Linked DNA regions of Homo sapiens. The protein of the gene in region 3 purifies or fractionates together with the protein of the main gene of each other region. This does not show direct contact. Each region holds a gene or a part of one and is shown on either strand. Other genes may lie near its edges.

Region 1 (3,493 bases), on a different chromosome or scaffold from region 3:
CTCGGAACCCTCCTTGCACCGCACCCAGGCCGATGAGTTGCCTGCCTGCCTACTCAGCGCAGCCCGCCTTGTGCCTTAGGCCCCGCCCAAGCCACCAGGGAGCCAATCTCAGCCCTCCACGCCAAGGAGCCTTGCCCACCAGCCAATCAATGTTCGTCTCTGCCCTGATGCTGCCTCAGGATCCCCCATTCCCCACCCTGGGAGATGAGGGGGTCCCCATGTGCTTTTCCAGTTCTTCTGGAATTGGGGGACCCCCGCCAAAGACTGAGCCCCCTGTCTCCTCCATCATTTGGTTTCCTCTTGGCTTTGGGGATACTTCTAAATTTTGGGAGCTCCTCCATCTCCAATGGCTGGGATTTGTGGCAGGGATTCCACTCAGAACCTCTCTGGAATTTGTGCCTGATGTGCCTTCCACTGGATTTTGGGGTTCCCAGCACCCCATGTGGATTTTGGGGGGTCCCTTTTGTGTCTCCCCCGCCATTCAAGGACTCCTCTCTTTCTTCACCAAGAAGCACAGAATTCTGCTGGGCCTTTGCTTGTTTATTTTGTTTCCCGACTCTTCTCTTGGGGTTCAGAGCCGCTGAGGGGTGGGGTGAGTCCAGGCAAGGAGTGAAGGTCAGGGGGAGGTGCGGACCACATAAACAGCGTCACTGCACGCATCACCACAGGCGGCACGATGAACGAGGACCACATATGCCAAGCACGGCACAAAAGGAGGCCACGTCAGTCACAGACACAGACACCACAGCAAAGGTGGGGAAGCGGAGACCACTGGCCTTCCGTGTGCAAAGGATTCTGGGAAGATGGGTGGAGTTTGCATATTTAAAGACAGCTGTCAGAGGCAGGAAACTGGGGAGGGGGTCCCTGGGGGAACCGAGGGGTCCTGGAAGTGGGAGGGGCTCCCAAGGTATTGAATGAGGTTGAGGGGAGCTGGTGAAGGGAAATCCTTGTGGGGCTAGGTGTTGGGTGGCATTTGAAGATGTGGATCTTCAGAGGGATGGAAGATCCATGGGAAGGGGCTCAACAGTAGGGGTTTCTTGAGGATTTGGAAAATTATGATGGGAAATAGGTGTGCTGGAGAGATTTGGGACCAAAAATAGGGTTTTCCAGGAACTTCAGGGCTCCAGGAAGGGATTCTGCAATGGGTTGCCTGGTATTTGGGCACTTCCAGGAAGGAAAACGCCCTCTGGGGAAACCAGGGGCGGAGGTCTTCAGGAATGTGGAGGTTCTAAAACAGAAGTAGATCCTGAAGTGACCACGAGTGGGGTTCTAAAAGGACTTGGGGATTCCACATGTGAGAACCGGATTTAGGGCCAGGAGGAGTCAGGTTTCTCAAGGTACTCGGGGATCTTGAGGAATGAGAGGTGGAATCTTGGAGAACCGGGAGATGGGTTCTCAAGGGATTTGGAGACTCCAAAAGTGAGAAATGGATTCAGGGCCCAGAGAAGGGTTGCCCAGGGATTTTGGGGTTCTCAGAGTGGGGTATCAGTCGGAGAAGAGGCTGGCGAAAGACTTCCTCAGGCTGCGGATGGTCTCAGCTTTCACCTCGTCCTGGCTAAGGCTGGGCCTGGGCGGGGCTGGCTCTGGAAGGTTGAAGGCATTGGTCAGAGACTGGGATTTGCTAGAGAGAGACAAGGTGGAGGCGTGGGAGGAAGGGGGAAGAGGAAGGGGAGGAAGGGGAGAGAAACACAACGTTACCCCAGGCCCAGCCCCAGCCCTGCCCCTCTGATCCTGGGGCTGTGCCTGTGACCTCCCCACCTGCCACCATGGGCCTGGACCCTAACAGGTTCTCAAGGCTGGGAGCACTCAGGTGGAGTGGGTGGAGTCCTGGGCCAGGGAGGCGAGATCTGGGACAGGCTGGGAGGACTTGGATCCAGGGTGAAGTGTGGGATTCGTGGCAAGAGTCCTGGGCAGAACCTTCTCTGTGAATTCTTGGCTAGTTTGATACAAAGGGGAAGATGAGCAGGGAAGTTTCCAATCTAAGGGTGAGGTGTCTAGGAGGGCATAGAAAGGGCTTGGACCAAGGACAGGCTGTTGGGCAAGTCAGCCTAAGGCAGAGCAGCTGGGTGGGGCAGGGAGGACGTCTGAGCTGGGATGGGAGTTGGAATGGACCAGAAAAGGCAGATGGGTGATGATTCGCGGGGAGACTGAGATGGGCCAGAAGGATGTGAAGGAGGAGGAAAAGTATGAGGATGGAGTGGGAAGAGCCAGATGATAGGAGGACTAGGACTCGGGCCAGGAGTTTTAGGGATGGGTTGGTGGCGGGGGGGCGAGTTTGGCAGGGAAGGCTCTGGGCTGGGCAGGAAGTTGCAGAGGGTGGGTCAGCCAGGTGCCTGGGAGGCCCTGGAGGAGGAAACTTTCCCAGGGCCTTTGAGGAGGAATTCGAACTGAGTGCAGTTTCTCTGGGATTCTGGCACCAAATTCCTGGGGTGGGGGTGCGGAGCCTCTGGTGGGCCGGGAGGAGCGAAAGCTTGGGGGAAGGGCTTGGCTCAGGCTGGAGAGAGTTCGTGGGACCCCTGCATAGGACCTGGGTCTGAGGAGCAAGGGAGCTAGGGCTGCTCTACTGGGGCAGCGGCCCGCTTTGTGAGCAGCAAGGCGAAGGCTGCTGTAGGGGTCCCCTTACTTGAGCTGGGGGTGCGGAGGTCCCCCTGCAGCGGCGGTGGCGGGTGGCGGCACGTCCTGGCTGGGTTTCTGGGCCAGCTGTGGTTTGGGACGTCCAGCGGGGCCCGGGCCGCTGGGCCGAGGCTGCTGCGTGGTGGGTGGCCCAGTGCGGGGCACGGGACCCGCCTGGCTGGCCTGGCGTGTGGGGCCGGCTGGGCCTGGGGGTTTCTGGGGCGGGCCCTGGCGCTGCTGCCCGCCCGGTGGGGCCCCAGAGGCCTTTGGCGGAGCCGGGCCAGAGACGGATGTCTGACGGGTAGCCTGTGGGGGGCCCGCCTGGCGCTGGGGAGACGGAGAGGCGGGCGGGCGGGCTGCTGGAGGCGCCCCGGGGCCTCCCGCCACTGGCCGGGATTGGCGGCCTTGACCCTGGGTCGGCGGCGCGGCCTGGGACGCGGGCTGCTGGGGCGCTGAGGTGGGACTTGGAAGGCGCTGGGGCAGGGGGCTGCCAGCTGGGGGTCCAAGGCCTGAAAGGTGCTGCTGGCCCTGCGGGGGCGGGCGCTGCTGCAATGGGGGTCCCTGGCGCTGGGGGCCTGGACCCGGCTGTGGAGGGCCGCCTGGGGGACAGAGGGAGAGAAAGAGCACACGTGAGAGTGAGCGGGTAAGAGATGGCGGGCTGAGGGAGGGGACTGCGACCGCCAGCCTCTCGCTTACCCTGTGGTGGGGGTCGCTGCTGAGCCGGGGGCCCTGCGGGCTGCTGGGAGGTCTGGCGGCCCAAGGGCAGGGCCCCTGGGGACGGAGTCTGCGGCAGAGGAATGGAGCAGGAGAGGTTAAAAATAGTTACCAGCCAGTGGAGCATCAGCCAGTGATGACACAGGTTCCCTGTGCGCTGGGTGTT
Region 2 (7,036 bases), on a different chromosome or scaffold from region 3:
TCCCCACATGGCATATGCCCAGCTACACCACTTCCTCAGCTTCCTCCATAGTGAGGGGCAGCCTATGACTAGTTCTCTCCAGTGGAATGTAAACAGACATGTTGGGGGCCACTCCCAGGCTTGGGCCATATATCTCACTTTGCATCCTCCTCCAGGCCTTCCACTTCCCATGAGCTAGGAGGGCTATGACCAAGTCCAGAGTGACACTGTAAGCTAGACACCAAAATGGCAGAACTGTCAGGCAGGTTCCTAAGTAATTACAAAGGACACAAGGTACCTCCAACCCCAGTGTCTCTACCACTGTCAAACCCTTAGCAGCCACACTGGATTGTTAGAGAGCTATGAAGCCCTAATTACACCTTACGTCTATGACTTGCAGCACAGACTACACACACTAATACCTTAAGTGTCACCTAGAATAAGGGTGTTGCCGTCAATCTAAAATATATGGCATCAAGTGGAGAAGAAACAGAGATCACAGGCCAGAAAGCTAGAAGTCCTTGTCATGCTGTGGTAGAAGTTAGTGAAATCAAGCACGTGACAACTCAGAAAAAAGAACTGGTGTCGGCCAGGTGCGGTGGCTCATGCCTGTAATCCCAGCACTTTTGGAGGCCGAGGAGGGTGGAATACCTGAGGAGTTCAGGACTAGCCTGGCCAACATGGTGAAACCCTGTCTCTACTAAAAAGATACAAAAATTAGCCGGGCGTGGTGTGGGCACCCGTAATCCCAGCTACTTGGGAGGCTGAGACAGGAGAACTGCTTGAACCGGGGAGGCAGAGGTTGCAGTGAGCTGAGATCGCGCCATTGCACTCCAGCCTGGGTGACAAGAGTGAAACTCTGTCTCAAACAAACAAACAAACAAAAAAATAAGTGTCTACCGGAGTCCAAAACTAAGCAAAATGGCTGAGAAGAGTCAGATGATAGTGTGTGCTGCTGTTTTTAGCACAGTTTTGTAAGAGCTGAACTCTGCAAAGAATCAGCTGGTTTGTAGACGGTGGTAGACAGCCTTAGAAATAAAGCTCTCATAAGATTGAAAAAACCTTCTATACCCCAAATAACAAGAGATAAGTATGAGCAGCTCTTTAAACCAGGGCTCTAGCCAAAGTTTTTCTCTAACAGGTCAGACAAGAAATATTTTAGGTTTTGTGCATCTTTGTTGCAACTACTCAGCTCTCTTGTGGTAGCATAAAAGCAGCCATACACAAGATATAAATGAATAAGTGTGGTTGTGTTCCAATAAAACTATATTTATGAACAATGAAATTTCTAATTTCATATAATTTTTACACGTCGCAAAATGCTTTTTTCTCTCAAGGATTAAAAACCGTAAAAACCATTTTTAGCATGCAAACATACAGAAGCAGGTGGTGGGTTTGCAGGATGCTTGAATGACAAAGGTTTCACAGCAAATGCAAATGAGGGAGCTAGCAGTCTCTGAAAATCAGATTAAAGGTGCTGCCTTTCTGCCCAAGCCCATTAGTTAAGTGGCTTCAAGGCAGCTCCTAGTGAGTTAGAAGAGATTTGCAGGGACAAGAAAACAAATAAAACAAAACAGGCCATGGAACTATAGGCAGCTTTCATTTGTGATGCACTTTGTCTTCATTCACTTAGCATCTGTTACTGAGCACCCACTTTGTAAATAGGCATCATGCTAGGCTCAGGGCTGTGATGGTGAGCGGAACAGTCATGGGCCCTGCCCTCACAGAGCCCACATTTTAGAGGGAGGAGATGTACCTTCATCAGGTAATCTCACATGTGTGTACATGACAGCTCTGACAGGTGTTCCAAAGAAATATTTTCTTCCAGAGAAATATTTTCTTCCAGACTATTTCTGTGTGTGACTAAGTATTTGCAAAAAGAGAACCATAGTACACCTGTTCTTTTATAGCTGCATTTTAAAATTCAGTATTCCGTGAAGGTCAGGCATGATGGTCCATGACTGTAATCTCAGCATTTGGGAGGCCAAGATGGGAGGACTGCTTGAGTCCAGGAGTTTGAGACCAGCCTGGGCAACATGAAAAGACCTCATTTGTATGAAAAATTAAAAAATTAGCCGGGCATGGTGGCACATGCCTGTAGTCTCAGCTACTTGGAAGGCTGAGGTGGGAGGATCGCTTGAGCCCAGGAGGCTGAGGCTACAGTGAGCTGTGTTCATGCCACTCCAACCTGTCCAGCCTGTGGAACAGAATGAGGCACACGCCACCATTCCTGGATAGTTTTTTTTTTTATATTTTTAGTAGAGATGGGGATTTCTCATGTTGCCCAGGCTGGTCTTGAACTCCTGGGCTCAAGTGATCCTCCTGCCTTGGCCTCCCAAAGTGGTAGGATTATAGGCATCAGCCACTGTACCTGGCCTTTTTTTTTTCAAGAGAAAAAAAGAGTATGTCACATTTCATTTTATCTGCTCTCAAGTTTATGGAGACCCATGTGTTGGAGACCATGCCTGGGCAGCAGAAATGACACAGCACTGCAGGCTCCTGCCCCAGAGTGCCCTTCTGACCACTGTGAAAGAGGAAGCTGGAACAGGAGCCTCTGCTGGCAAAGATGCTCTGCGCACAGTGCTCATCCCCGCAAGACTCACTCAAACCTAAATAAAGATACTGTGGCCATCCCAGACACCCTGACCAAATAAATACCCCAGCCACACCAGATCCATCTCCCTCCCATTCCATCATCAATTCCACACCAGGGAACAAAGGAGGTTCAGATCCAGCTCCATCACCTGCCTCCAGGATCCACAGATAACCTTCCAAAGAGAAGGCTCACACACACGTCAATGCACAGGGTGGCCCTGACTTGATCAAGATCAGGGAGTATCCTCAGAAAAGTATGGCAATTATAAAAAAAAAAGGTCAAATAATAAATTTTATGTAACAAATATGAGCAAATTTTGTGCTGAATAACCAACAGGTGGAGGTCACACAGTCAAAAGAGTGAACGTTAACAATGCCAGTCCAATTTCAGTAACGCCTAGCAGATCCTTCCCCAGACCAGGAAGACTCCATTTGGTATGGTGGAGGTAGGGGTAGCATTTGTTTATTTAGCAAATATTTAGACCCCACTAGGTCCCAGAGTTCTGGGCTCTTGGGACACATCAGCAAAGCAGAGACAAAGCTCTCTGCTGACACGTGTGCCCAATCTGGCGGAGGGAGAGAGACAACCAAAATGAGAATGATGAGCAAGCATATGAGAGGGCATATTGTAAGGAGACATCTGCTCAGCAATACAAGAAGTTAAGTGAGGTGTGTGGGGATCTACTATGTCTTCCTGGGGGGCTAAATTAACTAGGGGGTCATAATAGTTAATCATGGAAATAGGTAATAAATGAGCAAAAATGGAAGGGCACGGGGAAGTTAGCCATGTGGACTTGAAAGATGTGAGGAGTCAGCCACGTGGACATCTGGGGAAGAGCTTTGCAGACAGAGGAAATCGTGGATACAAAGGTCCTGAGGCAGGAGCGCTCATCTGGCATGTGTGCGGAACAGCAAGGAGGCCAGGATGGCCATGCAGGGTATGCAAGAGGAGGAGAATAACAGAAAAGAGGAGAGGCCAGGCCACACAGATGCATGGGGAGTGTGGGGCTGGGAGGAAGCAATTCAGTGGACCCATGAAGGCTCTGCACAGCTCCAGCTGTTCCTCTTAGTGAAAGGGGTCTAATGACTGTCAGCAGTAGAGAAACAGAGTATGATGCAATGCTTAGAAGGCTCACTCTGGCTACTCTGTGGCATGGGGATGTGGGGTTGGCAAGGTAGGGAGAGCAAAAGCAGGGAGACCGGTTTGAAGGATCCTGCAGCGATCAAGTGTGAGCTGAGAGACAAGGTAGTGAGTTGTGCCAAGACTTGGGAGCAGGAAGGACACCGCTCACAAAAATTGCTCACAGGTTGTAGAGAAAGAGAAAAGGCAAGGAAGCCTGTAGTTTAGCGGGGAACACTGGGTTGGGGACATCTGAGAATCCAGTCCCAGACATGTTGGGTTAGAGATGACTGCTGGACAAAGTGGAGAGGTCAGCAGGCAGGTGGATACAGTAATCTAGCATTTGGAGAGAGGTCTAGGCTGCAGTCAGATTTCTGAGTCACTGGCACACAGATACTTAAAGCTGTGATGCTGACTGAGTGTACAGAGGTGACCTCTTACACTTTCTTCACTGGGCCTTAGAGTACTAAGCAATACAGCTGAAGGTTCTTTTGGCAATGCTAATGTTCTGACATGAATCAGAGAGAGTGGAAACAACAGGTGATCTCTGTAAATCTTAATCAGCTCTCATGTCTTAGATGTCCACTCCAGGAAAACAGCCCATCTACTTAGCCAGCTAGTAGACTTTGCCAGAAAGTCTCCAGGCAAGGCCATCTATGACCACTCTACACCTACGATCACTCTCAGACTGAGGAGAGGAGAGTTCTTTGAGTCAGCTTATCTGCCTGCTTCACATCTGAGGAAGTGTGCCCACTGCTTACCTTCTCAATGTCTACAAGTTCAGTCTCATAGATCTCTGCAATAGTAATGTGGTGCTTGGCTGCAATTGTAAACCTTCCCTAGGGGAAAAAACAAGAAACAGTCACACACCGATTTTACCTATCTGAATGCCAGTTTGGGAACATAAAAAAGAAAGATAGAACTCTAAGCCATCTCAAGACTCCACCCCACAGCCACTCAAGCAATGCAATGTCTTACCATGTCTGTGTAAATGTCGATGGCTGCATTTAAGCAGTTGATAGCCTCTGAAGCGTAGGCATTTAAGAAAAACAATGAAAAATCCATTCAGTCAAAGAGGGTTCAGGTGAGGCTGTCTTCCTGGCTGTTATCAGAACGTTAATGAGGTATAATTTTGGAGTGGAGGGTGGGCAGGTTAATGAGAAGCAAACAAAAATCATGCACAAGTCCAGATTCATCAGCATGGCTTTGTTCCCAGCAGCTATAGTATAATTTAGGGAACTGTAGCTGGAGTAACATTGGCTTAGTTACTCTTAACCTTAAAGTGAGGACTCCATCCAGGCAAAAGACTGTATTATAAAGAAAATAAAACCATAGAGGTTGTCACCAACACTGATAAATTGTATCTGCTAAAATATGAATGCAAACATATTCCTCATTAATACCATGCATATATATTAATTTTGGAACATGGCACCACATCACAAGAACAATCACCTCAATAGATTCTACTCTCCATGCAGCCAAAAGCAAAAGCACTTTGAAATGCCTATTCAAACAACCCTTAAGCAAAGTCAACATTCTGTATAATGTTCAAAGATGCTAAATTGTAGCATACTAACAAAATGAAGAAACAAATCTAATAAATAATAATGCTAATAAATTTTACTAATTTTCTAAACAAGTGAGCCAAAAAATTTTCCCTATCATAAAATGATGGTGTTTATGATGCTGGCATACAGTGACAGCTCCAAGTTTATTACGTTTGGTTTAAAGAGGCAGCAAAGTAGAAAGGCCTGACTACAAAATTAGAAAGGTAAGCAGATGAACAAAAATTAAAACAATTTCCCTCTAAACTACATAAAAAATGTGGATCCCTGTTACACCTTTTAAAATACAGAATATAAAGAGAAAAATAATCTATCAATAATCCCGCTCAAATCCGTTGTTAGTACTCAGATGTACTTTCCTTTTGCGTTTATTAGACACATTTCTATATGCACAAACTTTTTTCTGAAAATGAGATTATACAACATTCAGTCTCATGTGCTTCTTTAATTGACATGTAAACATTTACCAGGTCACTGAAGATTCTCTGAAACCAGGGATTTTAATGCCTGCACCATATTCTAAAGTACTGATGCATTACAATGTTACCACTCTAACAGCTTATTTAACCTGTGTCCAGTTTGTCACTTTGGGAAATAAACTGTGATTAACCCTTATACCAAAGGTATTGAAGATACCCTATTTCTTTATGACATATTTATTCTCAAAATTTGGGATCTGTGTGTTAAACAAAATGGACTGCTAAAAGAAAAAGGAAAAACACAAAATTTCCGCTGTGCACGCGTGTGGAAGGTAAGAAATTAATACTTTTAATTACACTCTTCTAACTAAAAAGAAATAATCTTTGCAAAATTTTACCACATTAAATATCCAATTGCATTCTTTCCTCAAAACAAATACTTTGAAAAACTTTTTAAAAAACCAAATGAATACTGTATGAATCAGACTTTTTAACGATTGAATATTACAATCTCCCATTAACTGGATCTGAAAACTCCTTAGGTATTTAGGAGTAAGGGAACATAAGAGTTTCCTTTTATGAACAATATACATTTTCACAAAATTAAGATATAAGAAGTCTTAGATAAAATTAAAGGTAATTTCCAAAAAATTCTCTAAAATGCAATATAAATAAGAGTTTAATTAAATGATGCTATAAAGTAAACAGCCAGTATAAATTTAACATAATTTCTCCTCATAAAAGCCCCCAAATGATTAAAAAAGAAAAATCCCTAAGGTTATCAAAATTCTCTATTATTCCAAAATACAAAAATTCCTTTTTACCAGGACTTGAAAGCACACCAACACTGACCTTAACGTTGAGGGAAGTACTGACTGGTTAGTTACACACAGAGATAGCATGCTACATGCCTGGCTGTCTTACCTTGGGGATCTGCCTTTTTGTAAGCATTTCCAGCATCCACAAAGCTGGTAGCAGAGTCATGTTTGCTCTGAAGCTGCATGTGGAGCTTGGCTGCCTGACAAAATGCGTTTCCTGCAGCTGAAGAAGACACTACAATTAAACACAGAGGAACAAGTCCCCCCCAGAGCAGCCCATGCTGTAAGCACTGGACCTCCCTAGAAAAATTATATTCCACTGAAAAGAAGCATTCTAGTCAGAAGCAAAAATCCATGTGGTCCAGTGCACCTCGGGCAAATATAAAAATAACCAGAATCAAGTCAAACAGCGATGAAAGCTTCTCCACCTCAGCTCCAGCAGACTTTCCAAGTGTCCCTGGGCACTAAGCCACTATTCCCTGATCTGTCCATTCAATACCAGTAGCCAAGTCTTGGGCTACTCAATTCAATTCCACT
Region 3 (7,239 bases):
ACGAGGTCAGGCGATCGAGACCATCCTGGCTAACATGGTGAAACCCCATCTCTACTAAAAATACAAAAAAATCAGCCGGGCGTGGTGGTGGGCGCCTGTAGTCCCAGCTACTAGGGAGGCTGAGGCAGGAGAACGGCGTGAACCTGGGAGGCAGAGCTTGCAATGAGCCAAGATCGAGCCACTGCACTCCAGCCTGGGCAACAGAGCAAGACTCCATCTCAAAAAAAAAAAAAAAAAAAGAAGTGGAGCCACAAGATGTGACTTGCTGCAATCTCATGGTAAACCTTTAATGGATGAGAAGTGGCTTCTTATGGATGAGGAAAGAAAGTGCTTTTTTGAGAAGGAATCTACTCCTGGTGAAGATGCTGTGAACACTGTTGAAATGACAACAAAGGATTTATAATATTATATAAACTTAGTTGATAAAGTAGCCTCGACTTCCTGGGCTCAAGGAATCCTCCTGCCTCAGCCTCCCATGCTTCTAGGACCACAGGCATTCCACCACGCCTGGCTAATTTTATTTTTTTTGTAGAGACGGGGGTCTCACTTTGTTGCCCAGGCAGGTCTCAAACTCCTGGGCTCAAGCAATCCTCTTGCCTCTGCCTCTCAAAGTGCTAAGATTAGGCTGGGTGCAGTGGCTCACGCTTGTAATCTCAGCACTTTTCGGAGGCCAAGGAGGATGGATCACTTGAGGTCAGGAGTTCGAGATAAGCCTGGCCAACATGGTGAAACCTTGTCTCTACTAAAAATACAAAAATTAGCCAGGCATGGTGGCGGGCACCTGTAGTACCAGCTGCTCGGGAGGCTGAGGCAGGAGAATCACCTCAACCTGGGAGGTGGAGGTTGCAATGAGCCAAGATCACGCCATTGCACTCCAGCCTGAGCAACAGAGACTCTGTCTCAACAAATTAAAAAAAAAAATAAATAAAGTGCCCAGATTATAGGTGTGAGCTACCCTGCTCAGCCTAAAGTATTTTTTAATCAAGGTATGTAAGTTGTTTTTTAAGACATAATGGTATTGCACACTTACTAGACTATGGTATAATGTAAAAATAACTTTTTTGCCCCATAGGATCTGCAGGAAAACATACTTTTACATGCAACGGAAAACCAAAAAAAAAATAATTGTGTGACTTGCTTTACTGCAGTGGTCTGTAACTGAACCCACAAGAGCTCCAAGGTATCCCCAGATCTAGAATCCAACTACTTCTCACCATCCCTTGGGCTTCACCCTGGTCCAAGTCTCCAATATCTCTTGTTTAGAAAAGTAACTACAATAGCTTCCTAACCGGTTTCCCTTTCAGTCAGTTCTCACCAACAGACACATTAATCCTCTTAAAACGTAAATCAGGTCATGTCAATCCGCTGTACTACCCACCTCACAACAGTAAAAGTCAAAGTCCCACGATCTACAAAGACATACCAGGTCTTACCCTCCTCCCCCATCTTCTACAATTATACTCCAGACTCAGTCCTCTGTAGCCACACTGGTTCCCATTCTGATGTATAGCTTCTAAGCCTCAAGACCTTTGCACTTGCAGTTCCTTCTGCCCGTACCCCTATTCTCCCAGTTGTATGCATGGCTGTGATCTCTCACCTCCCTAAAGTCTTCGCTCATATGTCACCTTCCTTATGACTAACAATGACATTTAAAACTGCACTACCTGGCCCGGCGTGGTGGCTCATGCCTGTAATCCCAACACTTTGGGAGGCTGAGGCGGGCGGATGCCTGAGCTCAGGAGTTAGAGACAGGCCTGTCCAACACGGGGCAACCCCCTTTCTACTAAAAATATAAAAAATTAGCCGGGTGTGGTGGCGTGGGCCTGTAGTCCCAGCTACTCAGGAGTTTGAGGCATGAGAATTGCTTGAACTCGGGAGGCAGAGGTTGCAGTGAGCCTCTCTGCAGAGACTGCATAGGCTGGAGTGAAGTAGATCGCGCTACTCTTCACTCCAGCCTGGGCGACAGAGCGACACTCTGTCTCCAAAAAAAAAGAAAAAAAGAAAATCCTGCACTACTTACCATTCTTCTTTGTTTTATCTCTCTCCATGCCACTCAACCTTCTAATGCACAATATTTTATTTTGCTTATTGTCTGTCTTCCTACACAAGAGAGATAATATTAAGCTCCATAATATTTTTTGTATGTTCTGCTCACTGCTATATACCCAGATTCTGGTACATAGTCGGAATTCAATAAATAACTGCTAAATGGAATTAACAGTCAACAGGAAAACATTCTAGTCAGACATATTTTGAGAACAAAGGATTTACAATATTATATAAACTTAGTTGATAAAGCAGCCTCGACTTCCTGGGTTCAAGGAATCCTCCTGCCTCAGCCTCCCATGCATCTGCGACCACAGGCATGCCACCATGCCTGGCTAATTTTATTTTTTTTGTAGAGACGGGGGTCTCACTTTGCTTTGAGATGCTAATGACCAGACTCCAAGAGTGCAGAGGCAAGGCAGAGTAGAGAGAGGAAGCAGAGAAAGGGGAGAGGAAAGAACGGGGGAAAAAGGTAAAGGGGTCGACTCACGTGGAAAAATAGCCTACCTGCAGGGTTGAAGGACTTCTGATGCCGAGGAAACCTATCAGAAGACTGTCTCCAATACCACGATGTGGAAGCATGGAAATTCCAAGGCTGGCCGCTGGGTTGAGGCTGAGAATCAAGGGGAGACTGGGCGTCGAAGGGGGGTTGCGCCCCGGGAAGAATCTGGGCGTCGAAGGGGGGCGGAGCCCCGGGGAGAGACTGGGCCTCCATGGGGGGCTGCGACTCAGAGGAAGGCTTTGACCCGGCTGCGGGAAGCGAGGACGTAAGTGGTGGTGGCGGTGGCGGCAGCATTGCCCAGAACATCCAGCTGTCCCGCGGCGGGGCAGTGTCGCTCAGGGGCCCTAACGTGGGAGTCAGCTCGGGAGACGCATGCCACCCGATAGGAGTCTCGAAATCACTAGTCGGCTCAGCCATACCACTGGCGGGTCCGGAGTCTAGCACGCGACTGTGGAGCAAGCATTAGGCGTCACTTCCTTTACCGTGAACTACAAGGCTCAGCCAACCACAGGCTTTACGTCATTTCTCGGCGCCGGGAAACCTGCCATTCTTCGCTGCTGATCGCGGGATTCTTTTTGGATAGGGTTGACGTTCGTGGATAGACTCATATCTGTGACCAGTGTCCGCCACCGCGGATGGCAAGAGACCTGATCGGACCGGCCCTGCCGCCCGGCTTCAAGGCCCGCGGAACAGCGGAGGACGAAGAGCGGGACCCGAGCCCTGGTAAGCGGCGGCGTCTCCGCTGCCCACCAGGCCCATCTACCCACTCCCTGGCCGGGCCCTGCTCGCTGAAGAAAGTCGGAGGCCTAGGAGGGCGGAGGAGTGGGGAGTGGGCGCGGCCTGACCCGAGAGAACTTTTCTCTTCCCAAACAGTAGCAGGGGGGAGGAGGCTGGGGGACCCTCCTAGAAACGAGCTTTGGCGTGGTTTGGCTTCGTGATGATAATACATTCTCATTTAGCCTTAATATGAGCTGCACGCTGCCCTAACTGACTGATACCCACTCAGTCATTTAAGCCGTATAAGAAAAAAACTATTTTCCCATGTTGCAAATGGGTACGCCCAAGCCCATGCCAGTGTCTAGATCATACTGCTAGCAAGTGATGGAGCGCGACTTAGAAGGAAGCGGTTCTCTTAACCTCTGTGCCATATTGCCTTCTGATTACAAGAACCTTGCAGATCCTGTTCTCTCCAGCCCCCGACCTGCCTTCCTAGCCTCTCATTCTGTTATTGCATCTGACAAACACAGCCCAATACTCAATCCAGTCTGAGTTGCTGCGCAATTCCTTAACGCTCTAGGCTTCTGGGCTTCCTCTGGTTGCATTCCTAAACATAACTGACAAACTTCTCCCCATCCTTCAAGGCCCAACTTAAATGTCACACCAATAAAACCTTTCCAGATTCCCCGAAGCATTGTCATGCCTTTCTTTTTGCCCTCGGGTTTTTTCCTAATTACATTGCATATTTAGTACACTGTATTTGAATAATTTGTCGACATAATCTGTCTCCACCATTGCACTATGGTCTTCTACCTGAACACGCAACAGGCACTTGGTATATACGAAACGAATGCTTCTCGGATTCCGGCATGCATACCTATCTGCTTTAATGTTTATTCACATTTGTAGACTAGCACCGACACCCAGTTGGAGAAGAGTAAAGCTGAAAGAGTAACCCTGCCATTTCTGAATCTAATTTTTCTTCCTGGTCTACCCGGAGGCTATGTTTCTACTACAGGCCCCTTTCCAATATAATTTCTGTCATAACCACTTTAAAAATTATGCCTTCCAGCTGAGCGAGGTGGCACAAGCCTGTAATCTCAGCACTTTGAGAGGCTGAGACGGGGCGGATCACTTGAACTCAGGAGTTCAAGACCAGCCTGGCCAACATGTTGAAACCCCATCTCTACTAAAAATACAAAAATTAGCCGGGCGTGGTGGCGGGCGCCTGTAATCCCAGCTGCTCTGGAGGCTGAGGCAGGAGAATCGCTTGAACCCAGGAGGCGGAGGTTGCAGTGAGCCGAGAGTGCCACTGCGCTCCAGCCTGGGCGACGGAACGAGAGTTTGTCTCAATAAATAAATAAATAAAAGTAAATGTGAAAAATTATGCTTTCCTTCCTGTAGGAGATAGCTTTAAAAAAATAAAATAAGGCCAGGTGCGGTGGCTCACGCCTGTGAACCCAGCGCTTTGGGAGGCCGAGGCGGGCGGATCACGAGGTCGAGAGATCGAGACCATTCTGGCCAACATGGTGAAACCCTGTCTCTACTAAAAATACAAAAATTAGCCAGGCATGGTGGCACGTACCTGTAGTCCCAGCTACTTGGGAGGCTGAGGCAGGAGAATTGCTTGAACCTGGGAGGCGGAGGTTGCGGTGAGCCGAGATCGCGCCACTGCACTCCAGCCTGGCGACAGAGTGAGACTCTGTCTCAAAAAAAAAAAAGAAAAAGATTCTTCGTATATATTTGTTGAATGACTTCTCTTCGTCAAGCACAATATCTTACACGTAGTGTGTCATTTTAAACACATAATCTCCCCTGCTATAATTCCATTCCCTTCATAACCGCCTAGATGGCTGAACCTAAAACGGTTGCCAAAAAATCTTCATATATCATTTTTATTTCATCTATCTGGATTTTTAAGAAGTTTGCCAGTACCAATGGCCTTCACATCCACTATATCACACCATAGAAGCTGCACTTGGACCATCTTCCAGTTATTACCTGCATCACCACCCCTCCTACAACCAGAGGGTAACTGCTTCCTTGATTTATAGCATCACAGATTCGTTTTGCATGTTTTCTCTTTCATAACTGGCTTCCTATCTTGGTACTACATTACTTTGTGAGATTCATTCATGTAGATTAGCATTATTATAGATTGTTGAAGTTCATAATCTGGTCTTTAAACAAACAGAATTATTATAGGTTGTTTCTTTACATTGCTATATAGTCATCCATTAGATGAATGTTCTGCAATTTATCCATTTTACGTTGGATGAACATTTGAGTAATTTCCATTTGGAGGCTGTTATAAAATGTGCTGCTATGCATTGTAGTATATGTCTTATGGTAGATACTCCCAGCTTCCAAAGTCACCAAAGTTCTCAGCGTGTATGAGAATTCTAGTTGTTCCACATTCTAATATTTAGTTTTTTTCTTTTAAATCCGGTGGTTTGTAGCAATATCTCATGGTAGTTTTAATTTGTATTTCCCTGGTGACAAATGAAATTGACCACCTTTTCATGTGTTATTTGACCATATGAATACATGCTGTGTTCAGTCTTTTGCTTATTTTTCCATTGAGTTGTCTGTCTTCATATTGATTTATAGAGTTCTTTTTATAGTCTGGATATGAGTCATTTTCCAGATAGGTGTATCAGAAATATCTTCTCTAATTCTGTGGTTTTTTCACTCATGTTGGTATGTTTTGATTAACATAAGTTTTTAATTTTAATATATTCTGACTTTTAATTTTTTTCTTTTATGGTAGAATTTTTTGCATCCTATTTAAGCTATCTTTGCCCACCCCAAGGTTATAAAGCTCTTCTGTGTTTTCTTCTAAAAGCATTATTGTTTCAGCTTTCACATTTATATTTGCAATTCATCTGGAATTGATATTTGTGTGTGGTGTGAGATAGGGATGAAAATTTTTTGCCCCTGTAAGGGTATCCTGGCACCATTTATTGAACAGACCATCCTTTCACCACTATCACCTTCCTTATAAATCAGGCAACCATATATATGCATCTAGTTTTTTTTCTTGTTTATTCTGGTAAAATATACACATCTGTCATATTAACCATTTGTAAGCATATAGGTCAGTGGCACTTAGGTACAGTCACATTGTTGTGCGGTCATCACCACCATCCATCTCTAGAACTATTTTCATCTTGCAAAACTGAAACCTATTCCCATTAAACAATAACTCCCCATTCTCCCCTCTGACCCAGTCCCTGGTAACTACCATCTACTTTCTTTTTCTGTTAATTGGACTATTTTAGGTACTTCATTTAATGGAATCATACAGTACTTGCCCTTTGGTTACTGGCTTATTTCACTTAGCATAATTTTTTCAAGCTTTACTTATTGTAGCACGTTAGAATTTCCTTTCTTTTTAAGACTCAACAGTATTCCGTGTATGTATATACTGTATAGACTACATTTTGTTTATTCATCTGTTGCTGGACCCTTGGGTTGCTATGTATGCTATTGTGAATAATGCTGTTATGAACATGGGTGTACAAATAATCTGTTCAAGTCCCTGCTTTCATTTCTTTTGGTCGTATACCCAGAAATGGGATTGCTGGACCATGTGGTAATTCTACAACATTTTGAGAGGCCGGGCACGGTGACTCACACCTGTAATCCCAGCACTTTGGGAGACCGAGGCAGGTGACCTCACCTGAGGTCAAGAGGTCAAGACCAGCCTGGCCAACATGGTGAAACCTCGTCTTTACTAAAAATACAAAAATTAGCCAGGCGTGGTGGATTACCCAGAGATCTTGTTAAGATGCCAACTCTGATTCAGGTGATCTGGGACCTGTAGTCCCAGCTACTGGGGAGGCTGAGGCTTGAGAATCACTTGTACCTGGGAGGTAGAGGTTGCAGTGAGCCGAGATCGCGCCACTGCACTCCAGCCTGGGCGACAGATCGAGACTCCGTCTCAAAAAAAAAAAAAAAATTTGAGGAACTAG

The links. The genes of interacting proteins can lie anywhere in the genome.
Region 1: the proteins of NUFIP1 (region 3) and SYN1 purify together in Homo sapiens (affinity purification with mass spectrometry; 3 studies listed by BioGRID and IntAct, with this or other methods). This does not show direct contact.
Region 2: the proteins of NUFIP1 (region 3) and NAPB purify together in Homo sapiens (affinity purification with mass spectrometry; 3 studies listed by BioGRID and IntAct, with this or other methods). This does not show direct contact.

What each region holds. Positions count from the first base shown.
Region 1 is NC_000023.11:47,571,379-47,574,871, forward strand, and holds the end of SYN1 (synapsin-1), read right to left. Parts: intron 3,398-3,493; coding exon 3,310-3,397; intron 3,213-3,309; coding exon 2,624-3,212; intron 1,622-2,623; coding exon 1,486-1,621; 3' UTR 523-1,485; downstream 1-522. Other genes in the region: ARAF (serine/threonine-protein kinase A-Raf), read left to right, coding at 1-79. UniProt on the Homo sapiens protein: Neuronal phosphoprotein that coats synaptic vesicles, and binds to the cytoskeleton. Acts as a regulator of synaptic vesicles trafficking, involved in the control of neurotransmitter release at the pre-synaptic terminal.
Region 2 is NC_000020.11:23,390,467-23,397,502, forward strand, and holds part of NAPB (beta-soluble NSF attachment protein), read right to left. Parts: intron 6,735-7,036; coding exon of another isoform or gene 6,723-6,734; coding exon 6,606-6,722; intron 5,002-6,605; coding exon of another isoform or gene 4,811-5,001; exon of another isoform or gene 4,760-4,810; coding exon of another isoform or gene 4,720-4,759; coding exon 4,673-4,719; intron 4,534-4,672; coding exon 4,456-4,533; intron 1-4,455. UniProt on the Homo sapiens protein: Required for vesicular transport between the endoplasmic reticulum and the Golgi apparatus.
Region 3 is NC_000013.11:44,986,472-44,993,710, forward strand, and holds the start of NUFIP1 (FMR1-interacting protein NUFIP1), read right to left. Parts: upstream 3,001-7,239; 5' UTR 2,966-3,000; coding exon 2,554-2,965; intron 1-2,553. Other genes in the region: GPALPP1 (GPALPP motifs-containing protein 1), read left to right, coding at 3,184-3,271. UniProt on the Homo sapiens protein: Binds RNA.